Linked DNA regions of Homo sapiens. The protein of the gene in region 2 interacts with the protein of the main gene of each other region in a pairwise test. Each region holds a gene or a part of one and is shown on either strand. Other genes may lie near its edges. The genes, in order: MPPED1, ANXA7, ANGPT2, COL11A2, CTSB, HMGXB3 and CELF3.

Region 1 (4,108 bases), on a different chromosome or scaffold from region 2:
CACTCCCAGCCTTGCCACCTCATCTTCCCTCCCTTGCTTTTCCTTTGTCTCTAGCCCCAATGAACTCACATGCCAAGGCCTTTGCATGCCGCATTCCCTCGGCCTGGATGTCTTTTCCAGGCCTTCTCTCCTGGCATACACTCATTCAACTGGGCTGTCCCCACCTCCAGGAAGCCACACCAGATAGCAGTCCTCAGGGGCAGAATAGGCCTGAGGGGCCCGCAGAGGGTGTCCTTGGGGATTGTGTGATGTGTGTGTTGGTGAAGGGAGACCCTACAAGCATTTGTTGAGGGGCTTTGGGCCTCTGAGGAGCCACAGCCCCTTTTCATCTTCCTCTCAGTCTGGGAGGCCCAGGCCAGAGTGATCTGCACCCTAACTATACAAGGCCCTGGAATCCCCGTCCCACCCGCGGCAAGGGGCTGGAAGCCACAGGGCCTTAAACTCCCCAGGGTGACCCCCGACACTGAAGGCGATGGTCTCTGCTCTTCCCAGCAAGGCAGGGCCTCTTTACACTGGGTGTCGCGCCGTCTGAGTTCCTGACTTGTTTACCCATCCCGTTGGGGCTCCGGCCGCTGCAGGCTACCTGCTGTGCCCGGGATTGGGGACCTGTGACTCCCGAGTGGAAGAGATGGTGGCCCAGGAGGAGGACCCCGACCTATTCAGACTGGGAGCTGGGGTCAGAGTGTCTCCGTCTCCGGAGGGGGACCTTCCAGACCCCGGGCGGGAGGGGCCCACAGCAGGGTGCCCCGGCGGCCCCAGGAGGGGGTCCGGGCCTCGGGCGAAGGCTGCGGCGCCCCGGAAGGAGCCGCGCACGCCCCTGCACGCGGTGCCCGCTGCGGAGGCCACGGATCCGGAGGTGAGAGCGCCCCCGCCCCGCTCCCTGCCCAGCCCGCGCGCGGCCCGGTCCGGGGCTGGGGGCGGGCGCCAAGAGGGGCGCCGGGCGCAGTGGGGCGGCCCCCTCCCTTTTCCGCAGCGCGGGCCCCGCTCCTCCTCCCGCGTCCAGGCCCGCGGCCGCGCTCCCTGTCCCTCCGCAGCGGGATGCGGACTCCGAGCCCGGGCGGGGGCCGAGGGCCGAGGCCTGGCGGGCCTGGCGGGGGCCCCGGCGGGTGGCGGCGCAAGGGCCGGGACCGAGGCCGCGAGCGCGCCCCTCCCGGCGGCCGGGCGCGGAGAGGCGGGGAGGGCGGGCGTGGGGAGGCGGGCGGCGGCGGGCGGGGGGAGCCAAGGAGGCTCGGAGCCTCGCGGCGCGCGGGCGGGCGGCGGAGGGGGCGCGGGGAGCCCCCCGCCCCACGAAGGAGGAGTCTGGCTCCCACTTGCAGCCTCGGACGCGCGGCGAGGCGGCCGCCGCCGGAGGAGCCCCCGCCCCTGCGCGCCTCCCTCCCGGGAGCCCCTGCCTCCCTCGGTGCGCGCTGCTGCTCGCAGCCGCCGCGGCCGCCGAAGAGGAGCCCGGGGCCAGGTAGGACCGGAGGCGGGCGGGGCGCGGCGGGCGCGGGCGGGAGGCCGGGCGCGGGGCGCGGCCGGGACCCTCTCCAGGCGCTGGGCGACGCCCGCGGCGCTGCGCAGGGGCGCCCGCAAAGTTACTTTGGCCGCCTTTGCCGGGTGCGGGAAGCGGGCTGGGCACCCCAGCTGCCCCGCCTGCCTAGCGGGCGGCGGCGGGAGGGGGCTCCGCCAGGGCGCGGGACTCCGGCTGGGGCCGCGGGGTCAGCGAAACTTTTCCCTTGCTCGCCAGTCGCTGCTGCTGCTGGCGGAGTAGCTGGTGGAAGCAGCGGGCTGGTGGAGTGCCAGTGATGATGATAGTGGTAACAATAGCAGCCCCCGCTTGTAGAGAGCCTACTGTGTGCGCTGCCAAGCCCCTGCTGGCACTTGGGGGGGAAGAGATAGGGAACGAACGCTGGCCGAGTGGCCACTTTTGCTAGGTATTGCTGGAAACTTCATCCATTTCCTTCCATCCATTCATCCCTCCCTCCCATCCATCCATCCATCCATCCATCCATCCATCCACTCACTCAACACATATTTATTCCTGTCTGCTATGTGCTCGGCCAGGGGATTCAGTGGCTACCTAGACAGGTCCCAGCCCTCAAAGGGAATGTTGATCATGGAATGCCCAAACTAAGGAGCAGTTCTGTCTCCTGTGTGTTTGTTCTGGGACATGTTACGGGAGCGTGAATTCATGCTGTCTCCCTTCACCCTGGCAGGGCCAGAGGCGTGTCATTCAGAGCACTGATGTGCCCAGGAGTCTGGCAGGCCCCGGCCTGGCCTTCGGAACTCACCCTGCTCCTTTCCCTCCCACCTCTCCGGGCTCAAGCTGGGTGGCCCAGTTGGTGTCAGGAGGCTCCACTCCGGAACTGGCCCCCACCCCTGTCCAGCTGACCTCTCTGGGATGTCTCTTCCCCAGTGCTGGGCTGGCCTGGCTCCCAGCTCCCCTCCCAGAGTTTCTTTGCCTTCCCCCTCCCCATTTCCCCTGCTCTATTGAATGGCCCAGAGGAGAGCTTGTTAAGTGGCAAACAATTATGAAATTAAACTGGGGGAACAAAAGTGGGCTGGCTGTTGAATGGCGGAGCTGGCTCACGGGAGTTGAATGGCACTGGGAGACTTGTTAGCAGGGATCTGCGGCGCCGGGGGGCGGGGGCGGGTCAGGCAGACAGGCACTGTCAATAATCTGACTGGACTTTGCAAAAAAAAAAAAAAAATTAAACCAACTTGGTGAGAAACCTGGCACAGGGCGATGTTGGAGAGGCCACCAGCTGACTGCCACGTCCAGTCGGAAGCCAGATCTTGGTGTACAGGAGCCAGGGCTCTAAGAGACTATTTGGGGAGGGTGCTGATGGATTCGGCCGGGCTGAGGCAGGGGAGAACCTCAATGCGTTTGAGCTTGTGGTGCTAGGGAGGCATTCTGGAGCCAGGCGCAGTCTGCAGGGGCCCTCTGTGTGGGAACCACGCATGATAAACTGCGCTTCACCGTGCTGGGCTCCTTGCAAATTGGCTTTCTGAGTGGCAGCCCCACAACACTTGTAAAATCTTTTTCTGGAGATGGATTTCGGTGGAATGGTTCCATCGATTCTAGTGCTTGCTCACTGGAGGTACATTAATTGGGCGATGGCTAGTCAAAAGGCGATAATCCAGTCACGGAGGCTTAATCGTGTGTTCGGAAGTGTTTCAGTGTGGGACTGCCTTCCTATTTATTTCTCGGCCCCAGGAATTTCGGAAGACCTGGATTGAATGAGGTCCCTGTACTGGTGATGTGGATGGGTTCAGAGAGTCACCTACATGGCCGAGGAGGTACCTCTGATGTAACCACCCCGTGGTACGCTTAGAATCACTCACATCCACCCTGGCTGATGCCCCGTGGGCTATGCCTGTAGACAGATAGGACAGGTTTAGATCTAGGCGAACAATAAGAATTTTAGGGTGTTTTACTTGAGCCCCAACTGTCAGGAATACACAGACTGATGTAGGGAATCATCGTTCTTGAAAAGCCTGCTTTTAATAAATTCCCAGCTCACCCATGAGACTCTTAAATCTTCATCCAATGAATGTGGCTTAAGTTCATTTGTTCTTCTTTGAACTTTGCTACCTTCCCAACTAGGCAGTACGGGCCTTGGTATGCTCACTTTATACAGGACACATCTCTCTCTGCTTGTTTGAGGAATGACGGTGGTCGCTGGGATTCCGTGAAGGGCAGCATTAAGGAGAAAAATCAGCATTCTGGGTGCGGGTCTGGACTTCTGGAAAAAAAGAAAACCCTCCCCAAAGTGCAATCATCTTTTAGTCTATCAAAATGACTTCATTTTCCCAATTTCAGGCCTGTGAACTGATCATGAATACCGGGGGCAGAGGAAATTAATCAGCCAGGCAAAGACTTTTAACAAGTAAATATTATGCACAGAAAAACATGCAATTAGTGGAGGTTAGTTAATGCCTTTCAAGTTGCATCAGGCTGCAGTTAAGGGTGGAATTTCTGCGTTATCCCTGGATTGTCTGTCAAAGTCTTTAATGTGACAATGTGACATGTCTCTCCCATCGCCCCTCCCTCACCGGGAACAAAAAAGGGTCTTTTCACGAATTCCCCCTTTCCATTCTTCTTCTCCCTGAGATCTTTCCGTTCAGC
Region 2 (3,500 bases):
AAAGAGAAAGGGAAAGTCCTGAGGAACTCACAGTGTCACCACGAAGCAGTTTGAGTCCTCAAAACAGATATTTCAGGTACTCAGCCCAGTGAGACTCATTTCCTTTTTGAAGTTAACCAGTTTCTGGTGGTCTAATACACAGATGTCTAACAAAGTGAAAGTTTCATTCTCATGGATATTAGGACTAAGGGGAGTATTAGTAACACTTTGGTATTAACAATGGAATGTTGGGCCAGGGGCAGTAGCTCACACTTGTAGTCCCAGCTACTCAGAAGGCTGAGGTGGGAGGATCACCTGAGTCTGGGAGGCTACAGTCAGCCATGATTGCACCACTGCACTCTAGGCTGGATGACAGAGTGAGAACCTGTCTCAAAAAAAATCAAGGAGAGCATCTGAACACTCTTAACTCACCCCATGTTTCTGTGATGATTACAGAGAAAATAATCAAAGGCAGGCTATAAGTGATAAATGAAGCTGGAGGGGTACACTTCTTGTGAGATCATGATTCCATGTCTCAACCATCTCTAACTTGCAGTGCAGTGTGCCCTGAACCGCCCTGCCTTCTTTGCTGAGAGGCTCTACTATGCTATGAAAGGTGCTGGCACAGATGACTCCACCCTGGTCCGGATTGTGGTCACTCGAAGTGAGGTGAGGCAGGCCTCTCTCTTTTTGTCGGGTCTTACTTGATGTTCAATGTTGATTTCTTAAAAGTTCCCCAGTTGGTTGTCAGTCCCTCAAAAATGATAAGAAAGAGCTCTCTTTGCCACCTAAAAGAGGTGGTATAAAGAACAGAAAATTCACTTTCCTCATGCTGTGGGAGAAGCTTGCATTAGTGAAATAGGCCACTCTACCCTAATGAAGATAATACTAACAGATTTTACAACTTGAGAACGTCAATGGAGAATACAAATTTATGGGAAGTTAGACATTTGTCTTTCGATTTTCATTTTGCTTATATAAAAATTAGATGAAAGGCCTATGTAGATTAATCCTAGTGGATATCAACATTATTTAAATTTAGCATCCTTTATTAATAATAAAACAATTTTTAAAATATTCATAATTGTCTCAAGTATAGCCTCATTTTTAAAAATTGTACTTTATATATTTACTCCACTTACAAAAAATTTTTTTTCTCAGAAGAAATGACATTTGAATTTTTTTTTTTTTTTTTTTTTTTTGAGACATGGTCTCACTCTGTCACCCAGACTGGAGTGCAGTGGCACGATCTCAGCTCACTGCAACCTCCACTTCCTGGGTTCAAGCAATTCTGTCACCTCAGCCTCTCGAGTAGCTGGGACTACAGGTGTGCGCCACCATGCCCAGCTAAGTTTTTGTATTTTTTTGGTAGAGATGGGGTTTCACCATGTTGGCCAGGCTGGTCTCGAACTCCTGACCTCAAGTGATCCACCTGCCTCGGCCTCCCAAAGTGCTGGGATCACAGGCGTGAGCCACCACGCCTGGCCTGAACTTTTAATTGAAAGAAAACATGGCGGGGTGTCGTGGCTTACTCCTGTAATCTCAGCAGTTTGGGAGGCCAAGGCGGGAGGATTGCTTGAGCCCAGGAGTTTGAGACCAGCCTGGGCAACATGGTGAAACCTATTTCTACAAAAAACACACGCGCGCGCACACACACACACACACACACACACACGCCGGGGCGTGGTAGCCTGGGCAACATGGTGAAACCTATTTATACAAAAAATACACACACACACACACACACACACACGGTGAAACCTATTTATACAAAAAATACACACACACACACACACACACACACACCCACACCCACCCCCCGGCATGGTAGTCCCAGCTACCCAGAATGTTGAGGTGGAAGGATCACCTGAGCCTGGAAGGTCAAGGCTGCAGTGAGCCGTGATCGCACCACTACACTCCAGCCTTGGTGACAGAGACCCTGTGTCAAAAAAATACCCTAAATTATTATTATTATTGCGTGTTTTTTTTTTTTTTTTTTTTTTTTTTTTTGAGATGGAGTCTCGCTCTGTCACCCAGGCTGAAATACAGTGGCATAATCTCGGCTTACTGCAACCTCTGCCTCCCGGGTTCAAGTGATTCTCCTGCCTCAGCCTCCTGAGTAGCTGGGATTACAGGTGCGTGCCACCATGCCTGGCTAATTTTTTTGTGTTTTTAGTAGAGACTGGGTTTCACCATGTTGGTCAGGCTGGTCTCGAACTCCTGACCTGATGATCCGTCTGCCTCGGCCTCCCAAAGTGCTGGGATTATAGGCATGAGCCACCACACCCGGCCAAAAACCCTAAATTATACTAAAGAAGGTAGATTATTTTTAAAGAAAACAACCAGAATATGGTATTTTGAAAAAAACTTTGTTCTTTAACTTAAATTTTCAAAGCAGGATGTTTTAAGTTGTGATAAAATATACATAACATAAAAATTTACCATTTTTAAGTAGCAGTAAGTACATTCACATTGTTATGCAACCATCATTACCATTCACCTTCAGATGTTTTTTCAACTTGCAAAACTGAAAATCCATACTCCTTAAACAGTAACTCCCCATTCTCCTTTCTCCCAACTGCTGGCAACAAACCATGTGACTTTCTGTGCCTGTGTTTGACTACTCTAGGTACGTCATATTGGTGGAATCATACAATATTTGTCTTTTTGTGAGTGTTGTCTTTTACTTAGCATAGCGTCCTCAAGGTTTATTCATGTTATAGCATGTCAGAATTTCCTTCCTTTTGAGACTGAGTAATTAAATAGTCTATTGTACGTGTATCCCACCTTTTGGTTTTTTTTTTAATTCATCTGTGACACTTGGTTTGTTTCTGCCTGAATAATGCTGCTATGAACATGGATGTACAAATATCTGTTCAAGTCTACTTTCACTTATTTTGAATATACCCAGAAGTGGAATTTCTAGGTCATATTGTAATTCTTTGGAAGTGTTTTTGTTTTGCTTTGAGGAATTAACCATATTAGTTTCCACAGCAGCTGCACCCTTTTACTTTTCCATCAACCTGTGTACAAGTGTTCCCATTTCATGGCATCCTTGCCAATACTTACTATTTTTTTGGTTTTGATAATAGCCATCCTATCAAATGTTTTTAAATGACTAATATCTTTGGAATAATAGATGAAACTAGTACTACCCTGACCAAGTATTTTACAGAGCTGTGAATCAGACCTTCATTGGGTAGTGCTAGCATTGGTATGAGTGCCAGCCATAAAATGTCAGTCACTTGGTGTTTTCCCCCCCAAGTTTTGATTATTATTAAGATCTTATTATTTAAAAAGAATTTTAAGAAATGTCAGTTGTCACAGATGTTTTTCTGACAGAAATATTATTTCTTATGCAGATTGACCTTGTACAAATAAAACAGATGTTCGCTCAGATGTATCAGAAGACTCTGGGCACAATGATTGCAGGTGACACGAGTGGAGATTACCGAAGACTTCTTCTGGCTATTGTGGGCCAGTAGGAGGGATTTTTTTTTTTTTAATGAAAAAAAATTTCT
Region 3 (2,557 bases), on a different chromosome or scaffold from region 2:
CCCGGGTTCACGCCATTCTCCTGCCTCAGCCTCCCGAGTAGCTGGGACTACAGGCGTCCGCCACCACGCCCGGCTAATTTTTTGTATTTTTAGTAGAGACGGGGTTTCACCGTGTTAGCCAGGATGGTCTCGGTCTCCTGATCTCGTGATCCACCCACCTCGGCCTCCCAAAGTGCTGGGATTACAGGCGTGAGCCACTGCGCCCGGCCCCTGCTTATAGAATATTTCTAGATTTTTCCATTTAATATTTTTGGCCCAGCTGACTTCAGGTATCTGAAAGTGCAGAAAGCAAAAATAGCAGATAAGGGGGGACTACTGTGTTTCTTTCTCTCACAAACCCCAGCATGCTCCTGTTTTTGGCCAAGCCCAGAAATTAAGGTGCAGATGGGGCTTCACTCCCACAGCCCCTGTGCTGGACACCTCTCCTGCCCTGGCTTTAGCTGAGCGAGCACACACTCTCACTTTAAATTTCCTTTTTGTCTCTGAAACATAGAGACTTCCTTTTTATGTAGCTCCACTGAGTACTTAATATTTTAGTTTAAACTTCAACCGAAAAAATCATTTAATAGAGCAAGGGGAGCCTGAGCGAGTCCAGCCCACCATGTTGCTGGGACTGCAAAGTAATCCTGGTTGAAGGAGAGTTTTCCAACTGTGCCTCAGATGTTTGCTTACTCCTGCTGTAAGTGTGTACACACTGTGGGCTTACCAAATAGGACTGTGGAGAATTCAGGCCTCTCCACACAGCACAAGGGAAAAGGTGGAAGAAGGCTTGTAAAAGCATTTGCCGTAATGGAACTGTGATGTCATGGGTGTATGGCTGGAAAACAATCCCTCTGCCAGTGCACATCCTATACTCACCATCATCTGCATGTGCCTACTCCACACGCCTGCAGTGTGCCTCCTGCCTTAGCTGAGTATTGCTGTCTTCGTGGTGGGAGCTGGCATCACCTAGTTCCTAATTCCTTCTGTGTTTTACTTTCACAGGCTGGTGGTTTGATGCATGTGGTCCTTCCAACTTGAACGGAATGTACTATCCACAGAGGCAGAACACAAATAAGTTCAACGGCATTAAATGGTACTACTGGAAAGGCTCAGGCTATTCGCTCAAGGCCACAACCATGATGATCCGACCAGCAGATTTCTAAACATCCCAGTCCACCTGAGGAACTGTCTCGAACTATTTTCAAAGACTTAAGCCCAGTGCACTGAAAGTCACGGCTGCGCACTGTGTCCTCTTCCACCACAGAGGGCGTGTGCTCGGTGCTGACGGGACCCACATGCTCCAGATTAGAGCCTGTAAACTTTATCACTTAAACTTGCATCACTTAACGGACCAAAGCAAGACCCTAAACATCCATAATTGTGATTAGACAGAACACCTATGCAAAGATGAACCCGAGGCTGAGAATCAGACTGACAGTTTACAGACGCTGCTGTCACAACCAAGAATGTTATGTGCAAGTTTATCAGTAAATAACTGGAAAACAGAACACTTATGTTATACAATACAGATCATCTTGGAACTGCATTCTTCTGAGCACTGTTTATACACTGTGTAAATACCCATATGTCCTGAATTCACCATCACTATCACAATTAAAAGGAAGAAAAAAACTCTCTAAGCCATAAAAAGACATATTCAGGGATATTCTGAGAAGGGGTTACTAGAAGTTTAATATTTGGAAAAACAGTTAGTGCATTTTTACTCCATCTCTTAGGTGCTTTAAATTTTTATTTCAAAAACAGCGTATTTACATTTATGTTGACAGCTTAGTTATAAGTTAATGCTCAAATACGTATTTCAAATTTATATGGTAGAAACTTCCAGAATCTCTGAAATTATCAACAGAAACGTGCCATTTTAGTTTATATGCAGACCGTACTATTTTTTTCTGCCTGATTGTTAAATATGAAGGTATTTTTAGTAATTAAATATAACTTATTAGGGGATATGCCTATGTTTAACTTTTATGATAATATTTACAATTTTATAATTTGTTTCCAAAAGACCTAATTGTGCCTTGTGATAAGGAAACTTCTTACTTTTAATGATGAGGAAAATTATACATTTCATTCTATGACAAAGAAACTTTACTATCTTCTCACTATTCTAAAACAGAGGTCTGTTTTCTTTCCTAGTAAGATATATTTTTATAGAACTAGACTACAATTTAATTTCTGGTTGAGAAAAGCCTTCTATTTAAGAAATTTACAAAGCTATATGTCTCAAGATTCACCCTTAAATTTACTTAAGGAAAAAAATAATTGACACTAGTAAGTTTTTTTATGTCAATCAGCAAACTGAAAAAAAAAAAAGGGTTTCAAAGTGCAAAAACAAAATCTGATGTTCATAATATATTTAAATATTTACCAAAAATTTGAGAACACAGGGCTGGGCGCAGTGGCTCACACCTATAATCCCAGTACATTGGTAGGCAAGGTGGGCAGATCACCTGAGGTCAGGAGTTCAAGACCAGCCTGGACAACATGGTGAAACCCTGTCTCTACTAAATAATACAAAAATTAGCCAGGCGTGCTGGCGGGCACCTGTAATCCC
Region 4 (3,500 bases), on a different chromosome or scaffold from region 2:
AGTGCTGGGATTACAGGCGTGCGCCACCGTGCCTGGCCTCCAAATTTACTTAGAGTATGGATGCTTAACCTTTGGGGCATATTTAAACTTGTGAACCCTTTGAAATCCTAAATAAAATTCTGTGCATAATAGCATATACTTTTTCATTTCTGGAGAAAGACTCACAGCTTTCATCAGATTCTTTTTTTTCTTTGAGATGGAGTTTTGCTCTTGTTGCCTAGGCTGGAGTACGATGGCATAATCTTGGTTCACTTCAACCTCCACCTCCTGGGTTCAAGCTATTCTCCTGCTTCAGCCTCCCAAGTAGCTGGGATTACAGGCATGTGCCACCACACCCAGCTAATTTTGTATTTTTATTAGAGACGGGGTTGCACCATGTTGGTCAGGCTGGTCTCAAACTCCTGACCTCAGGTGATCTGCCTGCCTCCGCCTCCCAAAGTGCTGGGATTATGGGCGTAAGCCACCTCGCCCGGCCTAGCTTTTATCAGGTTCTCATGTGGGTCCATGCCCTCCTCTTACCCCAAATAAAAATCTACCCACAATCTTAGAGAGATTCTTTTATGATGTATTGGGGTAAATGTGTGGAAGGTTTCTTAAGGTTCTAGGGAGGGAGTTTGGGAGATGGGATAGGGTCCTCTAGAAGAGGGTTTGGGAAGGTGGGTGGTTTAAAATCCCTGAAAGGGGCCAGGTGTGGTGGCTCACGCCTGTAATTCCAGCACTTTAGGAGGCCAAGGCAGGCGGATCACCTGAGGTCAGGACTTTGAGACCAGCCTGGCCAACACGGTGAAACCCCATCTCTAATAAAAATACAAAAATTAGCCGGGCATGGTGGTGCACATCTGTAATCCCAGTGTAATCCCAGCTACTTGGGAGGCTGAGGCAGGAGAATCACTTGAACCTGGAAGGCAGAGGTTGTAGTGAGCCGAGATCGCGCCACTATACTTCAGCCTGGGTGACAGAGCAAGACTTCGTCTCAAAAAAAAAGAAAAACAAACAAACAAACAAAAACACTGGAAGTTTCTGGGGACCTTCCTGAAAGAGGCTCTCAGGGAGATGGAGAGGTTGTGTTTGCTGAGGTGGGGCTGGGAACTGGGGGGGCAGGGAACCCTGAGGTCTCCTTGGCAGGCTTGAAAGGTTTGTGAAGAGGGAGTTTTAGGGGAGGGCTGTGGGGCTTTCGGGTAGGGCTGAAGTGGTCTCGAGAGGATCTAAGAATCAAGGTTGGAGTTGAGATGGAGAAAGGCCTAGTGTCCTGGCTGCTCACGGGCCCCACTGGGGGCTACATGTGTGTCTCCTTCAGGCTGCCCATGGACCCCGAGGGCTGAAGGGAGAGAAAGGAGAGCCTGCAGTGTTGGAACCTGTAAGTTATGCTGGTCACAGGGCTGAGGCAGTGGAAATAGGAGAAGCAAGTGGGGTTGAGTGTGCTGGTCCTGTCGCCTCTGATTTTTAACCTTTGACTCCACAGGGTATGCTCGTGGAGGGGCCCCCTGGCCCAGAAGGCCCTGCGGTAAGTCTAGCAGTGACCTGGTGGCCATTCTTTTCTTAGAAACCCCTTCTATGTGCTCATCTGAGCCTTCCCCACATATGCCCAGGCCTCCTCCTCAGAACTCGGGAGCATCCCTCCAATCAACGCTTCCCAGATTCCCAGATCTGTTCTGCACAGACCACTCCTCAGCCACAGGCTGAGTGTCCACACCTGTCTGAATGCCCACACCTGACCCCTACTCTTTTGTTCCTCAGGGATTGATTGGTCCCCCTGGCATCCAGGGGAACCCAGGCCCAGTTGGAGACCCTGGAGAGAGGGTAAGGGGGTGTCCTCCATGTGACGGGGGAGCTTCGGGGGAGCTAGTGGTATCCAAGCGGGGGGCTACCATGCCCAGTAATTTCCTGTTAGGTGGCTTGTTAATGAATGAGGGGATGGTTGTGCTTCCCAGCAACCAGAAAGGAGGGCAGACTCTGGTTGGGGAGGGTGCTGATCTGGTTTCTCACCCTCAATTTTCCCCATGGGGGTGGGAGACTCAGGAAAGAGCTAGAGCAATCTACACTTATTCTGTTGAAGAGGATATTTCAAAATCATGCTAAGATCTTGATGTCCCCTTATCTTTCACCCCATCTTTTGCATTCTCTTCCCACTCCAGGGCCCCCCTGGCCGAGCAGGGCTCCCTGGATCAGATGGGGCTCCTGGTCCTCCTGGCACATCTCTCATGCTCCCAGTGAGTTGTCTCTTGGGTTTTGGAACATGCTGATGGGGAAGACAAGGAATTGTGTCATGTTACCAAGAACCAGATGGGCAGGAAAGATATGGAGGAGTCTCTAAAGATCATCAAAGATCATCACTCCAAAGGGATTCGTCTTTGGGGTTGGGGAGATGGGGCCTCATTAGGTGACCTAGAACAAAACACCAGTCTTCTAGGACTGGGCAGAACAGCCTATATTTCAGGAGCTCTAGAACCAAAAGAGAGTCTTTCTGGAGGCAGAGGCTGGACAGTGGAGGAGGGCAGGAGTTGAGTTTCTGGAATCCTCTAAGTGATTATCTGGAAGCCATGGGAAATGCTGGATGGGCAGAACCTGGGGCAAGGGGCAGAAACGCTGGAGAAAGCCTCTGGCTGGGAGGGTCCCATGGCTTTCTTGGAAGAGAACCTGGACCTTCTCTCCTTGACCTCAGTTCCGGTTTGGCAGTGGTGGGGGTGACAAGGGCCCTGTGGTGGCGGCCCAGGAGGCTCAGGCCCAGGCGATCCTGCAGCAGGCGAGGGTGAGTGGGGCTGCTTCCCTGGAAAGGGAAGGCTCTGGGGGGCACTGGAAGGGTTGGCTGGAGTGAGTGTGCGGCAGGGGAGGCCTGGGTTGGTTTGGGGTTAACAGGGAGGTTGGGGAGAATCCTGGGCAGTGGATGAGGATCAGGAGAGGAAGGGTGAATTTGGAGAGTGCTGGGGCTGGGGGTTCCCACTGCCTGTCCCTCAGCTCTGCTGTCCCCCTGCTCCCCTAGCTGGCGCTCCGTGGACCCCCTGGCCCCATGGGATACACAGGGCGCCCTGGACCCTTGGTGAGTGAGCAGGGTGCTCGGGTGGAGGATGCTTTAATTGTGTGTGGGGTGTGGATAGTTCTGGAAAGGGGCTTCTTTTGGGGAACACTCCGAGGCCACTGTTGGCTGTGTCCTTCCTTACGGCCATCCTCTCTTCTCTCTCCCAGGGCCAACCTGGGAGCCCTGGCCTGAAAGGAGAGTCTGGAGACTTAGGACCTCAGGTGACCACTTTCCTCCACTGCACCCCCATATCTGTTCACCAGCTCAGTCTCCCTCACTCCCCTCCCTATGCCTCCTAACCCCACCCCATCTCTCCTCTCACCAGGGCCCCAGAGGACCTCAGGGCCTCACAGGCCCTCCTGGCAAGGCTGGGCGAAGGGTGAGTGCCCCAGGGGTGGATGGGTGTTGTGGGGAGACAGGGCCTGCAGGGTAGGGGACTGCGGCCCTGCTTGTTCTGACACTTCCCTTGTTCTCCCAGGGCCGG
Region 5 (3,500 bases), on a different chromosome or scaffold from region 2:
ATTTTTTGTTGTCGTTGTTGGTTGTAAACAAGACAATTTAGTCAATATTCTGGAAAGTTCTGAAAGCTTTTACTCCCCATTTCTGTTACTGACTTGCTCAGATGCTGACAGAGCCAATGCATTCACCACGTCTGCATCGGATACCAAAGGACCTTGGGCCTGCTTTATAAAAGCTTTTAGAGATCCTTTGAGATTGCAATGAGATTAGTGTTCTGCTCATTAGTGTTCTGCCTCTCCAGCTTGCAGAACACGGCGGTTCCCTAATTCAACCGCAGGCGAGATTACACCAGGGTAGTTGAGGCTGACGCGAAGGCCAGCCACAGAAAGGCCTAGCTCTGGGCCGGGCATGCTGGCTCACGCCTGTAATCCCAGTACTTTGGGAGGCTGAGGTGGGCGAATCACGAGGTCAGGAGATCGAGACCATCCTGGATAACACGGTGAAACCCCGTTTCTACTAAAAATACAAAAAAATAGCCAGGCATGGTGGCAGGCGCCTGTAGTCCCAGCTACTCGGGAGGCTGAGGCAGGAGAATGGCGTGAACCCGGGAGGCGGAGTTTGCAGTGAGCCGAGATCACGCCACTGCACTCCAGCCTGGGCGACAGAGTCAGACTCCATCTCAAAAAAAAAAAAAAAAAGAAAGGCCTAGCTCTTGGATCCAGCTAGGTCCTGTTTTCCTCCCTTGGGGCCCTGGGAACAGATACCCATCTCGCAAGGCTGATGGAAGATACAAGGAGACACTCTTTTGAAAGTGCCTACCCTGCACCAGGCTCAGAGCAGCGCCATCTGGGAGAAACTTCCTCAGTCACTGGGAGCGTGAAAAGCCATCTCCTTATACATAGGACAGCCAACGTTTGCATCCCAGAGTCATCATTTCTATTTTCAGAAGTATCCTAATTTGGATGAAAAATAATGGAAATTGTACTATCAGTGACAAGGCCTTAAAAGTTGATTTGTTCTGCTGTCTTGACTGCCAAAGCAAAGCATGTCCCAAACACCAGGAAGGCTGAGTGGGTTGGGAATGGGTGGCAGGTGGCCCCCAGCACTCTGATGTGGTTTGATGATACGCTTCCAACCCTCGAATGGGAAAAGCCTGTGGCTGGCACCGCCCTCCTGGGACTTGCGCAAGCCAGGAAGCTGTGTGACTGTGTGTGTGCACATTCTGCCAGAGTCCAGGTCAGCACGTCAGAGGGTCATGAGACAGCCCGGCCCTCCGGGCTCTTAGGGCAGAATATCTAGATGTCTTCTACAGGGCTCTCTACTGGTCCCGTTACCATCTTGGCCACATTGGGCCCATCCTTCTCCATGCATGCTTGCTGGTGATGCTAGATTATCTTGATGACCAGACCAAAGAAGTTACTGGCCTGGTAAAGACAGATAACACAGTCAAGACTGCCAGCCACACATCCTTCTCAGCACCCAGCATTTAGAAAACATCAGTTCTGGGCTGAGCACAGTGGCTCACATCTATAATTCTGACACTTCGGGAGGCCAAGGTGGGAAGATTGACTGAACCCAGGAGATTAAGACCAGCCTGGGCAGGATAGTGACCTCGTCTCTATATAGAAAATTAAAATTTAAAATAAAAAATAAATAGGCTAGCGGTGGCTCAGGCCTGTAATCTCAGCACTTAGGGAAGCCAAGACAGGCAGATCATGAGCTCAGGAGTTCAACACCAGCCCGACAAACATAGTGACATCCCGTCTCTACTAAAAATACAAAAATTAGCTGGGCGTGGTGGCACACGCCTGTAATCCCAGCTACTCAGGGGGCTGAGGCAGGAGAATCACTTGAACCCGGGAGGCGGAGGTTACAGTGAGCCGAGATTACACCACTGCACTCCAGCCTGGCGACACAGTGAGACTCCGTTTCAAAAAAAAAACAAAAAAACCCAGCAAATATGCCATCACTGACCAACAATAAAAACAGGAAAAGTGTCACTCAACCCATTTATGCCAGAGGTTGCAATTTTTTAAATTTTTGCACGAGTAAAAACATCAGACCTTGGCGATGACCTTGAGCAGTATGATGTAAAAACTCCCACATGCTTAGCGTTCTAATAATGGAACACTAGGCATAAGTGGGTTACTGTTGTCCTACAGCAAAGATTAAATTTGAATTTCTGGTCATGAAATTAAAACAGGGGTACCACTTCAAACCCATCAGATTGGCAAAAATCAAAGTCTGGTACTATCTAGTGTTGGTAAATGTGAGGAACAGGAACTCTGCACACTGCTGGGCGAGTAAATTGATGCAACCACACTGGAGAACCCTTTGCCAGCATCTAGCAAGATGGAAGATGAACACACCTCATGACCCAGAAACAAACTCTCCCACATGTGCCCTGCAGAAACTCTTCTAAGTATCTGGGAGACACAGGATATTTATTGTAGCATGGGATAATAGTGAACACGAAATAACATAACTGTCCCTCAGTAGATAAACACACTGGGCACTTAACACAAATGGACTAGAACTGGATGTAGCAACAGAAATAAATCTCACAACCGTGAGTGAAAAAGGATCCATGTAGTGTAACTGAAGTCATATAAACTTTAATAACATTGTTTATACACTGATGCAGAGTTTTAAAAGTACAAAAAGGCCTGGAGGTGACTCATGCCTTGTAATCCCAGCATTTGGAAGGCCTAAGTGGGAGGAGGCAAGGGGATCACTTGAAACCAGGAGTTTCAGAGCAGTCCTGGCAACAGTGAGACCCTGTCTCTACCAACGAAAAAAAAAAAAAAAAAAAAAAAAACCTGGGCACCGCCTGTGGTCCCAGCTACTTACTACTCGGGAGGCTGAGGTGGGAACCAGATCGCTTACATCTGGGTGGCTGAGGCTGCCGTGAGCCGTGGTCGCACCACTGCACACCAGCCTGGGAGACAAAGCAAGACCCTGTCATTAATCAAACAATAAATGAATGAATGCATGAACAAAAAAATGTGCAGAAGAATCCAAAAGAGGGGCAGCAGACAGGGAATACAATGGCCCTTGGAAGGATCAGGAAACAGGCACAGGAGTGGTCTACAGAGGCGGACGATAAGGCTTGAAACTAAAAAAGAGATTAGTTAAAAGTCTAAACACATGGCTGGGCACAGTGACTCACACCTGTAATCCCAACACTTTGGGAGGCGAGGCGGGCAGATCATTTGAGGTCTCTACTAAAAATACAAAAATTAGCCAGGCATGGTGGTGCATGCCTCTAATCCCAGCTACTCCGGAGGCTGAGGCAGGAACATTGCTTGAACCTGGGAGGTGAGGTTGCAGTGAGCTGAGATTGTGCCACGGCATTCCAGCCTGGGTGACAGAGTGAAACTGTCTCAAAAAAAAAAAGAAAGAAAAAAATGTCTAAACACAGAGTGGAATTTGATCCCTAAACCTCCTACCCCACACAAGCTAGGGTAAATATAAACATTAACAACCATGCCAGGGCGCAAGGTTTGCCTCCCACATGCTCTTTCTCAGGCAGCCTGGGACCAGACGTAGAGACTGCTGCCTG
Region 6 (3,500 bases), on a different chromosome or scaffold from region 2:
AAAAAATATTTATTGAGCACATATTCTGTACTAGGATCTGTACTGGGGATTCAGTAGCAAACAAGACAGCACAATGTGATGGGTTAATGTCTGGCCTGACCTGATCCATAAGGAGAATGTGTCTCTTATCCTGGAGATCTGCTCAGGTTTCTTTCTCTTGTGACCTAAATATAATCACTACCTTTTCCATGCCTTCACTCACCACTCCCTTTGGCTACAGGAGGCAACTAGATTTACCATTTAGGGGGAACTACCCCTGAGTAGACCCTCTCTTCTGCTGATTAGATAGTAACTTGTCATAGGAGCTTAGATGCTAGAGCTTTGAGCTTTAATAGTCTGTAAGTCACAGTTTGTCTTCAGGCAGGGCTTGAACTCTTTAGTTCACCAGTCTCAAGCACTCTTTGTTTAAACAGACCTGCTTTACTCCACCAACTGCCTGGACCCTGAAGGCATTTGAGTTTCTGACCATTGAGAGTCAACTCTCCTGTTTCACAGATAGGGAAGGACTGGACTGGATTTGCCAAAAATTTACAGCCTGTATTAAAAGTAAAAGAGTTAACTGCAGAAAAGGTTAAGGCTCTTGAAGTTAGGCTGAATCTGGTTTGCAGTTGCCACTCTCTTCTCTGATTTACTGGCAGCTGCTCATTCTGGTTCTGGGTTCTGCCCAGGTTTAACTTAATTTTTGTAGAATTGAACACTGGTCTTACTTTTTTAGGATTTGGGCCTGGCTACATCAAGAGGCCGGGGAAAGTGCAAGAATCCCTCTTGTAGCTATGTCTACACCAACAGGCACAAACCTCGAATTTGTCCCAGCTGTGGTGTTAACCTTGCCAAAGACCGGACTGAGAAAACCACCAAGGCTATCGTGAGTTCCTTCCCCCAAACACATCCCCTGGCCTGTTCTGGGCTCTGTTAGTGAACCTGTCTTAGTAGAAATAAGAAGATTTTTAAAGTACATGGTGGTAGTTAGAGCATCCAAACTGAACCAGTTGGTGGGTTCTGAACCTGAGCAAGTGCCGCCTTTTCTCTGAGCCTCCTTGTCCCCATTGCCAGGGTGAAGGGGTTGACTAGGTATCTTGATCTCTGAGAACCAAGAGTTCACTCACTGCAGAGAATGATGTAGCACAGGCCTTAAGTAGGAGTGAAAGGAGAGGGACGAAAGGGTTGCATCCTCTTACCGCTGAGGCCTGATACAAGACCTGTAAGTTGATTTACTGTTTCGGTAAATAGAGAATGCCAACCTGAGACTTTGCAGATTAGACCACCGCTGCTTTCTCAGGCTCCTTGGAAAGCTTTTAGTTAATCAAAGCTTTATTTCTAGCAGTCTAGGCAGCCCTCCTCTCTGAAGTTGGGCCAAACTACTTGGGTAGTAAAATACATTCCACTTGGCTCCTTAGGGCTGCTATTATTATTATTACTATTACCAGGAAAAATGGGCATTTTCAGAGGTCCCCAGAATTTCCATATGAGTTTTTTAAAGTGAACAGAAAATGGTGGCACTTGAGGCAGCAAATGGAAGGACTAAAATAAGGATGAGAAGAGAAATGTCACTGGTCTGCCTTGGGGAAAGAGGGGATGGCACACAGAACAGGTCAGGACCTGAGATGGAGCCTGGTCACTCCAGATCAAGGCTGGACCTTGAAAGGCAGGCAGGTTTTGAATGGAAGGGGAAGGCATGCCATACTTAAGTCTCTCCCACTAGACTGTAGTCTGGTGAGTGAACATGAAGTGTGAGTATGGATAAGGATAAGTGTGAGTGATAAGGATAAGTGTGAGTGAACATGAAGAGTGTTCCATTTGGCTGGAGGAGATGGCGTGGGGGCATGGGGTGGGAGAAGGGGTGTTACGGAAAATAAGACGTGAAAAGCATCTTGGAACCATGTCATGGAAGGTCTTGTCAGTTTGTTCTTTAGTCAGTGGGGTCCTACTGAATGTCCTTGAGCCGGGGAGAGGCCTAGAGGAAAGTTATTTCAAGAGGGGAATTTATGGGATGAGAGTTTGGGAGTAGACAGGACTACAGAGGTGGGGAGAACTGCTTCAAGCTTAGAGGTTTATTTGTATATGGAGAGAGGCCTTTTTGATGATGAATCTCACCCTGGTCTCCAGAGTCTGTTTCCGTGCTTGAGGTGATGTTCTGAGGTTATTGTCCTTGTGAGAAAGGAAAGTGGAACCAAAGTATGTGGGCACTAATGGCTTGGTGGGAAAAACACTGGGGCTGGGAGTGACCCTGAGTTGGAAGCTTCCCTCTCCCGAGCTTTAGTTTCTCCATTGGTAAAGTAAGGTGGGCAAGGTAGATTAGATCTGGGCATTTTACTCTTAAGAGACAGGAGCCTTAGAGAAGACTGATAATTGAGTTTTAAGGAGTTTATAAATCCCTGAAATTGCATGCAAAATGGGTCCGTAGCTTTCATCAGATTCTCTTGCTCCACTGGATGCCTGCTGCTGGAAGTAAGCTTTCTTCCCGGATTTTCAGTGGGTTTCAAAGTGCTCTTCTTGCCATAGCATTGATCACACCCCATATTGACTGCTTTTCTTAACTCCCTATGAGACCACAATCTCTTCTAGGGCAGGTATGTCTGTTTTTCCTGCACCTTCTAACCCTGGAGCTTACATATACAAAGTGTGTCTATCTGTAATTAGGAGATAGAATTGAGTTCTGTGTAGGTAGAAGCTCTGAGCATTCCTTTCTCCTTCCAGTTCATTTTAGCTATTTGCGCGGTTTGCAGTGGAAGTGGGTGTTACTCTCTAGATCTAGGATGATGAAGGAACTTAACTTCTCAGGTGACATAGGAAATTATCTAGGGACCTCTTGCCAATTTCAAATCCCACTCTTAAACTTATATCCATCTGTATTTGGTTAACTGAGAACTGCCCACCCCCAGGACCCTCATCTGCAGACCTTCCATCACTTTCCAATCTCCTAAAGTTTGGAGAAATACAGTGTAATTACTGCTTTCCAGAAAATAAAGCACTGGTCAGAACCACAGGGATCTTCTTGTGTGTTGTCATTTGGAGCCCCCTGGTAGCCAGATGTTTTCACATCTCTGAGATGGAATGGTCTTTAGTCCTTTCTATCCTTCATCTCTGGCGAGAGTCACGGGACAGTATTCCTGCCAAGTGGTCTTCCAGCTGTGGTTTCATAGTCATGACTGAGAACACACAGCCTCTCGGGGCAGCTCATTCTAGTGTTAGTCAGCTCTTCTGTAGCCACTGATTAATTAATTCTCTCAGCCAGCCTATATTGAATGCCTGCTATGGGCCAGGCTTTCAGAGATGAATAGGACGTGGCCCTTTCCCTTGAAGAGCTTACAGTCTAGTGGGAGAGAAAGATAACCAAGCTATTACAAATGAAAGTTGTCATAGGTATGCGGAGTTAATAAAAAGCTCCTTATTAAGTGTCCTAGTCTGTTTTGTGTTGCTATAAAAGAATACCTGAGGCTAGGCAATTTATAAAGCAAAGAGGTTTATGTGGCTCATAATTTGGCAGTCTGTACAAGAAC
Region 7 (3,500 bases), on a different chromosome or scaffold from region 2:
CCCAGAGAGGCACTGAGGGCCCCCACTGTGTGCCAGGTCCACGCTCATAGTCTGTGCTGCTCTCCCCAGCCCAGAGCCCCGCGGCCCCCGTGGACCCCCTGCAGCAGGCCTACGCGGGGATGCAGCACTACACAGGTGAGGCGCCCTAGCCAGGGCCCCTGCTCAGGTGGGAGAGGTGGCAGGAGGAAAAGAGGCCCAGTAACTGGGTCTGGGCTTCTTGGCTCCCTGCCAATCACCCTCTTCAGGCTTTACTGACAAGCCCAACTGTGGGGAGGGGTCTTTAAGGGCAGCACACCCAGGGGTCTGAGGCAGCTCCTTCCCTGACCACCTCTCAGCCCTGCAGGTGCCACTGGCCTGGGCTAGGGGAAGGGAGACAGGGTTGGCTGGGAGGGCTCAAGAAGTCAGGGAAGCCCCATCAGCCTCTCTCTTCTCCCCACCCCAGCAGCCTACCCAGCAGCCTACAGCCTGGTTGCACCTGCGTTCCCGCAGCCTCCAGCCCTGGTCGCCCAGCAGCCCCCACCACCACCTCAACAGCAGCAGCAGCAGCAGCAGCAGCAACAGCAGCAGCAGCAAAGAGAAGGTGCTGGCTGGGGCCTTGGGAGACAGGAATGCCCTCGTTATGGGCTTGGGGACTCCCTGTCACCCCGCGCTGAGCCCAGCTCTTGCCCACGTGTCAGGATGAAAGCAAGTGGGGAGGGAGTGGCCGGAGACTTGGCCCACACTGTCAAGGACTGGGACTGGAGGGCACTCCCAGGATCTGCTTTCCCTGGGACATTTGCTTCTGGGGTGTGTGCCTCCCAGTCACTGAGCTCTTTCTTCTGTCTCTGTCGCCACCCAGGCCCTGATGGCTGCAACATCTTCATCTACCACCTGCCCCAGGAGTTCACTGACTCAGAGATCCTCCAGATGTTTGTCCCCTTTGGCCACGTCATCTCAGCCAAAGTCTTTGTTGACCGAGCCACCAATCAAAGCAAATGTTTTGGTAAGAATATGATATGGCACATTTTTTGCCATACTCCAAATCAGGACAAGGTCTAATATATTTGAAGGCATTTATGGTCACAGTGGACCCAGTATTTGAAATACTGATTATCCAAGAGTACAAAAGAGCCATTTTGACACACCCAACATGCCACACCCAGCTGCTGCCTCGGCCCATCTCTTCTTCCTTCAGCGTTTCTCTTAAAAACTGGCCAAATTCATGTCCCATGAGGTCTGAAATAGGCTTATGGTCTGGGGATGTTTGGTTTGCAAAAGGTGGGCTTGGGGAGTCGGTTTTAGCTGCCTTCACATCTTTGAAAGTCTTCCTCAGGGGAGAAAGGGAATGTTCTTCTCTGCTTCAGAAGCCATTTAGGGTCTGGAAGTGGCCGTTTTCAAAGGGCAGGCTCAGAGCTATCCAGGCAGAGGAAGGGGTCACTGGCACAGAATGCTGGGAAGAATGTGGTAGTTGGAGTGGCTGGACTGGATTCATCCATTCAACCCATCAATCAACAAATTCCTAAGGAATGCTGCTATGTGGCAGGCAGCTTTCTAGGCATTTGGGACACTTGGGAGACACAGGGTAGTGCCAGAGGTCTCCTAAGCACGGAAGAGCGAGGTGGGGCTGGGCCGGGCCTTATGCCCCTCTCACCCCAGGCTTTGTGAGTTTCGACAATCCGGCCAGTGCCCAGGCTGCCATCCAGGCCATGAATGGCTTCCAGATCGGCATGAAGCGCCTCAAAGTCCAGCTAAAGCGGCCTAAGGATGCCAACCGGCCCTACTGAGGGCCCCCAGGTGGGTCCCGCTCCGTTGTGGCCTCCCTCCCCAGCTTCACACACTGCAGCCAGGGCCCTCGATTGGACTACACCCCCAACCCCTGTCCTCCACCACCCTCAGGGATGCCCACCCCACCCTTGACCCTGGGCACTTGAAGCAGGGGGCTGGGGCAGCTCCCTCAGCTGTTTTTCAATAATCTGAGTCACTCTCTCTCTCTCTCTCTCTCTCACACACACACACCCTCCGTGACCCCAGAAAGAGCCAAGTCTTTGTATATATGTGTCCACTCCCTGGACCTTCCACAATATCTGGTCTCGTTTGTCTGGTCAGTGTCCATGTCTGTGTGTGTCTCTTTCTGGTTTTCCTTCGGGTTAGAGTGGAATTAGGGGAACAGGACTGGAGGATTAAGGGGTTGGCTGAGGGTGCCAGAGGGCCCTAGAATCCTTGGCTCCTAGAATCTCTGTTGTCCTGAGAAGTGAGGACATCAGCCCTGGTTTCCCTGGACTTCAGGTGATTTTTCCCATGTAGCAGCAGACCCATGGGGCAGCAGAGTGCACAGGACAGACTGGGGGAGCCCATTTTCAGGCCTCTTGGGAGTTGCTCTGGTTTAGGTGGAAGAGGTTGAAATGTCGCGCCGCCTGTGAAGTTTACTTAGGTCTCCTCCACCCCATTGCTGGCCACCACCTCAACCTCATGGCCACAGAGCTGTGAGCCTTGGTTACTTTCGCACTGTTTAATCTCCTTTGGACCAAACCCTTGAGAAAACACAACCCAAGAAAAATACCCACATTTTCTGTTTCTCCCCTTTCCCCCCAATCCTGGCTGCTTAACTCCCCCAACCCTGGGGGCCCCCCCAGCCCAGGGCCCGTGTCCATTGTCGGCCGAAGCCCCCATCCCCGGACCCCTGCTCCGGGCCCCTGTAAGTTGCATGGAACGAGCGTGTTGTCTTTGGAGCCGATTGTTTGTTCTTTGGGGAGGGGCCGCGGAGGGAAGCACCCCCAAGCCCAAGGTCAGGGCCGGGGGCAGCTCGCGGGACGTGCTTGGTCTACAGTGGTTGGTGACTGTGGTCTGTGTTCTGTGCATTTCTCTTGCTTTCTGTGTTCCTTTCCAAAAAGGAATGAGAGCACTAACTGGGGGCCGGGGGTGGTCTCACCCCATGAGACTCCATCCCTGAGCCGTGACCTGGGCTCTGCCCTGGCCTTCTCTGCGGGTGTTCCCTTTCTTTTTCCAGGTGTCTGTCTCTTACACGCACCCCCTTCTCTGTCTCTCTCTCGATTTCTCTGCCTGCCTGTCTGTTGTCATCTCTTTGCCTCTCTCCCCCTCCAGTCTTTATTTTTCTCATGGGCTATCTATTTCCTTCCTAATACCGTTTGGTTTCCTGTATGGTTTGCCCCCTCCCTCCTGTCTCCTCTATCCCTGCTCTCATGGCTGGGGGTGGGGGCAGATGGGTCCGTTTGGACTGAGGCCTGATGATCTGCCTTCCTCAGGCAGCCCCATCCTAGATGCTGTCACTCACCCCAGCCCCCTCCCCTCCCCCAGAGCCCGTGATCCGCATCGGGGGTCTCTTCCCCATGCTTCACCCATGTTTCTTCCTTCACAGGTCTGGAGATCCCAGAGGAAGGGGCGCCTCACACCCTCTTCCCACGACTGGCCCCGGCCCTCTCCGCACACCTGCCCTGGGCCTTGACTGGGTTCTGGGGCAAACGCTGCTTCGTGGCCCCCGGGGGCACAAGACACCGGCCCCT

What was found.
Region 1: the proteins of ANXA7 (region 2) and MPPED1 interact in a two-hybrid assay, tested with the Homo sapiens proteins (one large-scale study listed by BioGRID and IntAct).
Region 3: the proteins of ANXA7 (region 2) and ANGPT2 interact in a two-hybrid assay, tested with the Homo sapiens proteins (one large-scale study listed by BioGRID and IntAct).
Region 4: the proteins of ANXA7 (region 2) and COL11A2 interact in a two-hybrid assay, tested with the Homo sapiens proteins (one large-scale study listed by BioGRID and IntAct).
Region 5: the proteins of ANXA7 (region 2) and CTSB interact in a two-hybrid assay, tested with the Homo sapiens proteins (one large-scale study listed by BioGRID and IntAct).
Region 6: the proteins of ANXA7 (region 2) and HMGXB3 interact in a two-hybrid assay, tested with the Homo sapiens proteins (one large-scale study listed by BioGRID and IntAct).
Region 7: the proteins of ANXA7 (region 2) and CELF3 interact in a two-hybrid assay, tested with the Homo sapiens proteins (one large-scale study listed by BioGRID and IntAct).

Annotation. Positions count from the first base shown.
Region 1 is NC_000022.11:43,410,706-43,414,813, forward strand, and holds the start of MPPED1 (metallophosphoesterase domain-containing protein 1 precursor), read left to right. Parts: upstream 1-1,308; 5' UTR 1,309-1,453; intron 1,454-4,108. UniProt on the Homo sapiens protein: May have metallophosphoesterase activity (in vitro).
Region 2 is NC_000010.11:73,376,059-73,379,558, reverse strand, and holds part of ANXA7 (annexin A7), read left to right. Parts: intron 1-535; coding exon 536-648; intron 649-3,341; coding exon 3,342-3,464; 3' UTR 3,465-3,500. UniProt on the Homo sapiens protein: Calcium/phospholipid-binding protein which promotes membrane fusion and is involved in exocytosis.
Region 3 is NC_000008.11:6,501,689-6,504,245, reverse strand, and holds part of ANGPT2 (angiopoietin-2 isoform b precursor), read left to right. Parts: intron 1-984; coding exon 985-1,145; 3' UTR 1,146-2,557. UniProt on the Homo sapiens protein: Binds to TEK/TIE2, competing for the ANGPT1 binding site, and modulating ANGPT1 signaling. Can induce tyrosine phosphorylation of TEK/TIE2 in the absence of ANGPT1.
Region 4 is NC_000006.12:33,178,968-33,182,467, reverse strand, and holds part of COL11A2 (collagen alpha-2(XI) chain isoform 1 preproprotein), read left to right. Parts: intron 1-1,297; coding exon 1,298-1,357; intron 1,358-1,462; coding exon 1,463-1,504; intron 1,505-1,737; coding exon 1,738-1,800; intron 1,801-2,135; coding exon 2,136-2,210; intron 2,211-2,662; coding exon 2,663-2,749; intron 2,750-2,980; coding exon 2,981-3,037; intron 3,038-3,183; coding exon 3,184-3,237; intron 3,238-3,341; coding exon 3,342-3,395; intron 3,396-3,494; coding exon 3,495-3,500.
Region 5 is NC_000008.11:11,861,588-11,865,087, forward strand, and holds part of CTSB (cathepsin B isoform 1 preproprotein), read right to left. Parts: intron 2,897-3,500; exon of another isoform or gene 2,789-2,896; intron 892-2,788; exon of another isoform or gene 758-891; intron 1-757. UniProt on the Homo sapiens protein: Thiol protease which is believed to participate in intracellular degradation and turnover of proteins. Cleaves matrix extracellular phosphoglycoprotein MEPE. Involved in the solubilization of cross-linked TG/thyroglobulin in the thyroid follicle lumen.
Region 6 is NC_000005.10:150,031,739-150,035,238, forward strand, and holds part of HMGXB3 (HMG domain-containing protein 3), read left to right. Parts: intron 1-715; coding exon 716-865; intron 866-3,500.
Region 7 is NC_000001.11:151,703,304-151,706,803, reverse strand, and holds part of CELF3 (CUGBP Elav-like family member 3), read left to right. Parts: intron 1-69; coding exon 70-135; intron 136-442; coding exon 443-580; intron 581-838; coding exon 839-982; intron 983-1,635; coding exon 1,636-1,763; 3' UTR 1,764-1,773; intron 1,774-3,355; 3' UTR 3,356-3,500. UniProt on the Homo sapiens protein: RNA-binding protein involved in the regulation of pre-mRNA alternative splicing. Mediates exon inclusion and/or exclusion in pre-mRNA that are subject to tissue-specific and developmentally regulated alternative splicing.